Linked DNA regions of Homo sapiens: region 1 is linked to region 2. Evidence: fine-mapped expression QTL. A gene starts in region 2. The other region holds a variant in brackets. All regions are shown on one strand. Distances are between the middles of the regions.

Evidence for each region.
Region 1: its variant is fine-mapped to the expression of POLRMT in fibroblasts (GTEx, PIP above 0.99).

Annotation. Positions count from the first base shown.
Region 1 is chr19:1,282,806-1,285,697 of GRCh38, reverse strand. It overlaps a transcript of EFNA2 not described here. Among named protein-coding and RNA genes, the nearest start is that of EFNA2, 1.6 kb to the left of the region's middle. RefSeq lists enhancers at 1-240, 241-741, 2,265-2,892. The variant C/T (reference allele first, on the strand shown) is at 1,581.
Region 2 is chr19:631,974-634,818 of GRCh38, reverse strand. It overlaps POLRMT (RNA polymerase mitochondrial), which reads left to right and starts at 1,282. Exons shown (of 21, transcript NM_005035.4): 1 at 1,282-1,394; 2 at 1,881-1,985. The coding sequence starts at 1,307. LOC105372234 (a long non-coding RNA gene) reads right to left here and starts at 1,355. Exons shown (of 2, transcript XR_936226.2): 1 at 924-1,355; 2 at 1-835. RefSeq lists silencers at 1,069-1,328, 1,339-1,498.

The DNA of each region.
Region 1 (2,892 bases), 650 kb before region 2:
CCGCCGGCATCCGCGTGGCCCGGCCTGGGGTCTCCGAGGGGCGGGGGCGCACCCTGCCTCCCGCGCCCCCACGCGCTCCACCCGGCCCGGCCCTGGGTCCCGGGCCTCTCACCTGCCCGGTTCCAGCGCTATCCGCAGCCTCACCAACCCCGACGCACGCGTCCCAAATCGGGCTCGGCCAACTCCAGTCTCCCTGCGGGGGCCGGGGCAGAGTTTCAGAGGGGCGCTGGCCAAAGTCCAAAGCTGCTCGGGCTGCGACCTCCCTGGGGCCCTCCTGGGAGTCGCCTCTCCGGACCCACGCTGTTCCCTGGGGATGGAGTAAGTCCCTACACCTCAGCCCTAAGGGTGCCGGGAGCATAGTAGGTGGACCGATGTGGAGTGTGAGCAGCTGGGGATGGGATCCAAGAAGCCCAGAGTGAAGCCCCGGCCGACAGCAAATCAGTCTCCACGCACGAATCCTGCAGGCAGGGGAGGGCCGCTGCCCGGGGGCACAGCTTGTGCAAAGACCCGGGGTCTGATCTGTTCAGGGAACGCCGAGTGATTTCTCCTCCTGGTAGGCTGACACAGGTGGGGAACTGGGGGCCTGGCCTCTGCTTTGTCTTTTTTCCAATCTATAGAGACAGTGTCTGGCCATGTTGGCCACGCTGGTCTTGAACTCCTGGGCTCAGGCGATCTTCCCACCTGGGCTTCCCAAAGTGCTAGGATTACAGGCGTGAGCCACTGCACCTGGCCTGCCCTCTGTTTTTGCCCTTATTCATGCCACAGCCTCCCTCACCAGACTCTGAGCTTGTGGAGGGTAGGCTGTCATCAAACGCTGGCTGGACTTTGCTGGCGATGCCCAGATCGTGTTGTACGTCTCTGAATTAGTGTCATTCACCAGGCCCAGTGCAGGAGAGGGAACTGCAGGGCAAGCACCAACAGCCCTTGGACCCGAAGGTCCCTGTGTGAGGCATTACCCAAACTCCTGGCAGGGACCGTGAACCCAGAGATGGGCAAGCTAACCTGTGCCCCAGCAAGGTGGGGTGGGGACCGGACCCACCACCGTCCCACAGCTCTGAGACGTGGTGGGCTCTGTCCTGTGTCTCCTGCGTGCCCTCCTCCCCCGATTCCCCAGCGGGCCACGCGGGCCACACCACCTGACCTTTGTTCAGGCTGGGTCCTGCTGGGAAGTCCTTCCACTTTTTCTTCCTGTTAAAATCTTGCTCTTCCAGAAAGGTCTGTCCCACCCAGTGCTCTAGCGTCCCTGCCAGGACAAGGTTCTCAGTTCTCTCTCCTCCAGGGAGCTCAGCCCGTCTGTTCTGAGCTCCAGGTCTCATCCCCTGACCCCACTACAGACGTCCCAGGTCGAAGGCCCAGGGCTGGCCGGGTGTCTCTTCAGTGGAGGGCGTGAACCTGTCCCAGGTGGTGGCTGAGGCAGGCCCTCTGGACAGGCTCTCTCAGCACCCCTGGAGTGAGGGCCTTGGGTTCTAGCCACACAAGGCTCTGTAGCCCAGACAGGCTGGAGAAGCTTCCCGGGCGGCTCCGTCTGGTGGGGGGCTCTTTTAGGGAGGGGGACGGCCACTCCCGGAGGTGAGCACTTT[C/T]GGAGCAGAGTGTGGCGGCTGCACCCAAGCACAGGACAAGGGGCCGTGAGCCTGGGGTCTTGGCGTGCCCGGCCCCAGCATGCCACCTGGCAAAGGTGGGAGTTCTGGAAGCTTCCTTCTACCCTGGGACCAGAAGCCCCCTCCTGCTTCAAGGGATCTCGTGGGTGAGGAGGGGTGGGCCAGGGTCGGGAGGAGGGGGTCTCTTCTCAAACCAGGACTGGGACCTGCACAGGTGGGAGCTGGAAGGGCACCACCTCCACCCAGGCATGGCAGGGCCACTCATTTGCATGCAGGGGCCACCGAGGCGAGAGCCGCCACCACCGCCACCGCTGAACGGATTTGAGCAGAAGCTCCGTTTTCCTTCTGTTCTTGTCTCTCTCAAGGTCAGAGCCCAAGCAGGGACGGGAACAAAGGCGGTGCGTCCCCCATTCAACCTCCCCGCGCCCGCTGGCCGCTCCTAGAGGAAGGACCTGGGGAAGGGAGGGGAGGGCAGGGCGTCTCCGAGGCCTGGCCCTGGGCGAGGCTGCCCCGGCAAACCCCTGCCTGGCAGGGGGGCCACTGTGGGGGTCCAAGAAGCCCTGTTCCCTCCTGGGGCTGGGAGCTGTCCCGGCTTTGGGACGCAGCCGCGGCCGGAGGTCACTCTAGAGTAAGCTTCCTGTGGAGCCAAGGGTCAGAAATCAGGCTCACTCTGGGAACAGGTGTCCGCCAAGGTCAGGGGTTATCCAGGGTCGCCCTCAGTCCCTGGTCTGGAGCCAGTACAGGGCTTGATGGGGTCTGGCCCCGCCCCCTGCTCTGCACTGCTGGGACTGGGGTCTACCCAGACTCAGGAAGGGACTTGTCCAGCCCGTGCCCAGCACCCACTGCCCACATGGCCAGGCCACAGGGCTTGGGATCAGCGTCCCGCAGCCCCTCAGCCTTCAAAGGCCGCGACGCCAGGAGGAAGCTAAAAATATGCGGGGAGAATTTCTCATTACAGAATAAATTGGACCCAATGCGCTGCCTGCCCTGGTGCCGGCAGCCTTCAGAAGCCCCATCTCAGCCAGGCAAGGATCAGGCGGCAGGGGTCACGGGGCGCTGGGGCCCGGGCAGGTCACAGGCTCCACTCAGGGCGGGAGCCCCACCGCTGTCCATCGCCCCCCACCTGCGAAGCACGGAGCTGGGGTCTGCGCTTAGCCCCAGGGGCCAGGGGCGTTTCCCCTGGGCTGGGTCGCTGTCCTTGAAAATAAAAATGTATCCCTTTCTCCAGTGGGTAACATGAAAATCCCCACCCCCATCCAGCCATGGACCCAAGATTCCTGCAACCCCTGCAGCC
Region 2 (2,845 bases):
CCAGGCTGGAGTGCAGTGGCGAGATCTTGGCTCACTGCAACCTCCGCCTCCCGGGTTCAAGCGATTCTCCTGCCTCAGCCTCCCGAGTAGCTGGGATTACAGGTGCCCGCCACCACCCCCGGATAATTTTTGTATTTTTACTAGAGACGGGGTTTTGCCATGTTGCCAGGCATGCTTGCGTATTTGCCAAGCTGGTCTCGAACTCTGACCTTAGGTGATCCGCCCGCCTCAGCCTCCCAAAGTGCTGGGATGACAGGCCTGAGCCACCAAACCAGCTCCCCTTTGCAACTGGGATATTAGCCTGGAACACAGTTACCCCCAGATATTCCTATTCTCACCCTTCCCAAGCCTACTGCCCCACAGCAGGCGCTCCCGCCTCTGGCCTGCTGCCCCGGCTGAACGACACAGGTGGGCACACCTTCCAGGTTCCATTCTAAAGCTCCCGCCCTGCTCCTCCTAGGCAGGATCACGCGGAGACCAGGGCAGGCTCTAGGCTCCGAGGTTTATTTCATTCCCTTGACCTCACCCCACTTAGCAGGTGAATCCAAGCCTGCCGCTCCATTCGGCTCCTGCCCCTGAGGGCTTGGGGATTGGAGGGTAAACTGAAGCTGGAGGCTGGGAGTCTCGCGGACTGGGGCTTTCTCTCCTTGCAGCCTCCCTGAGGTCGCACGTGCTGTGTCTTCCAGCAACTTGGTGGCCCTCTCTGAGCCTCAGCTTCCTCCATGATAGACGGCATCCTAATGACTCTTACCCAAAAGTTGTCGTTGGAGCAATGAAGGTTGCGGACAGGAATCTCTAAATTGCAGATGCTGTCCTCGTTATTAGATGAGTATGCCTTGAAAAAAAAAAAAAAAAAGCCGGGCACGGTGGCGGCGTCTGCAATCCCAGCGCTTTGGGAAGCCGAGGGGCGAGGATCTCTTTACCCCAGCAGTTCGAAGCTGCACTGAGCTATGATCACGCCACTGCACTCCAGCCTGGGCCACAACGCGTCCAAAACAAAACCAAAAAAGAAAGAAAAACAGAAAAAAAGTCCGGATTTGAGGTCCTCGGGAAAACAGCCTGAGAGTGCCTCCCAGTTGCCACGGCAACAGCTCTGTCCCGCCCCCTCCCTTTAAAAACAGCAGGAGGAACCAATCAGAGCGTCCACCGGCGCATGCCTTCGCGCCTCCGCTGCATCCTGGGAGTCTACTTCCGGCTGGGGTTTCCCTTCGCAGCCTCCGTCGACCATGAAACCACAACTCCCGGCAGGCGGCGCGGGCGCATGCGCAGGCGCGGGCCGGTGGGGTGGCCTGGAGCGGCGTGCGTAATGTCGGCACTTTGCTGGGGCCGCGGAGCGGCGGGGCTCAAACGAGCCCTACGGCCTTGCGGCCGCCCGGGACTCCCCGGCAAAGAAGGTAACACAAAGGGAGACGGCCAGGCAGCCCGGGGGCCACGGCGTGGGCTCCTCCCCGCGCGGCCGGGGCCTTTGGCGCTTTGACCTTTGCCTCTTTGCACCTGGGCGTGCGCAGCCCACCGACCCGGCCCCGCTTTCCACTCGCCCTTGCCCGCTTTTCGACTGAGGCTCCTCCGTGCAGTCTGACCTTTGACTCGTGGTTTCTTATGCAGCCTCCTGACCCCAGGTGTGGTGTTTAGGGCTCTTAACCTTTGACCTGCTGCACCTCGAGTGCGAGGAACCCTCTCTCGGCGGTTCCGCGCCCGTGTTCGCCGCGGCGGGGCCCTTCCACCTTCGCTGTCTTAGTTTCTTTCCAACTTAAGCCCGTGCTCCGAGAGTTTCCGCTGCGTTTAGGGCTCCTTTGCCCTTCGACCCTTCGGCTTCTGCCTTTATGGAGGCCCCCGCCCACACGCCCGGCCCCGCTCAGCCGCTCTCGTCTTTCCCGCAGGGACCGCCGGTGGCGTCTGCGGCCCCAGGAGGAGCTCGTCCGCCAGCCCCCAGGAGCAAGACCAAGACCGCAGGAAGGACTGGGGCCACGTGGAGCTGCTGGAGGGTGAGCGCGACCCCCACGGCGGCCCGGGAGAGGAGAGTCCGCTCCCTGCTGCCGGGAGAAAAGGCAAAGGCTCAGATTCTGAGACAGGCTGAGGGCGGTCTCCACCTCTCGGGTCCCAGGACACGCCCAGACGGCGTTGCTGAAACATCTCTTGCACCGCTCATGGGCCCTGTCCTTGCTGAGCAGGCTCCTTCCTGGAGCTCTCGTAATTCCCCCTCCCCAGAACCCCACCAGGTGCTCCCACTTTCCAGGGACATAGGTGAGGCCCAAGATTATGTCTGGAGAGACCCCCCCCCCGGCCCCGCCGCCAAGGCCACATGTGCAGAGCCAGGATGTGAACCCTGAACTGACTCAGCTGTCCTGGCTTGGCTCTGGGGGGTAGGCGCCTAATGGAGACTGGATGACTGCGAAACTTGGGAGGGACAGCCCAGGCTCCAGCGGTGGCAGGCCCTCGTCCTGGCCTGGCTGGTGGTGTGGGAGGGAGGTGGGAGCTTCCCTGTGCTTGCTTCCCGCCGGTGCTTCTGTCCCACATCCTGTCTGCGTCCATTAGGCAGCCGGGAAGGGAGAGGCGGGAGAACCTTTATAAAGGGAAAAAACCTGGCCAGGTGCGGTGGCTCACGCCTGTAATCCCAGCACTTTTGGGTGGCCGAGGTGGGCGGATCAAGAGGTCGGGGGTTCGAGGCCTGGTGCGGTGGCTCACGCCTGTACTCCCAGCACTTTTGGGTGGCCAAGGTGGGCGGATCAAGAGGTCAAGGGTCCGAGGCCTGGTGCGGTGGCTCACGCCTGTAATCCCAGCACTTTGGGAGGCCGAGGCGGGCGGATCAAGAGGTCATGAGTTCAAGACCAGCCTGGCCAACATG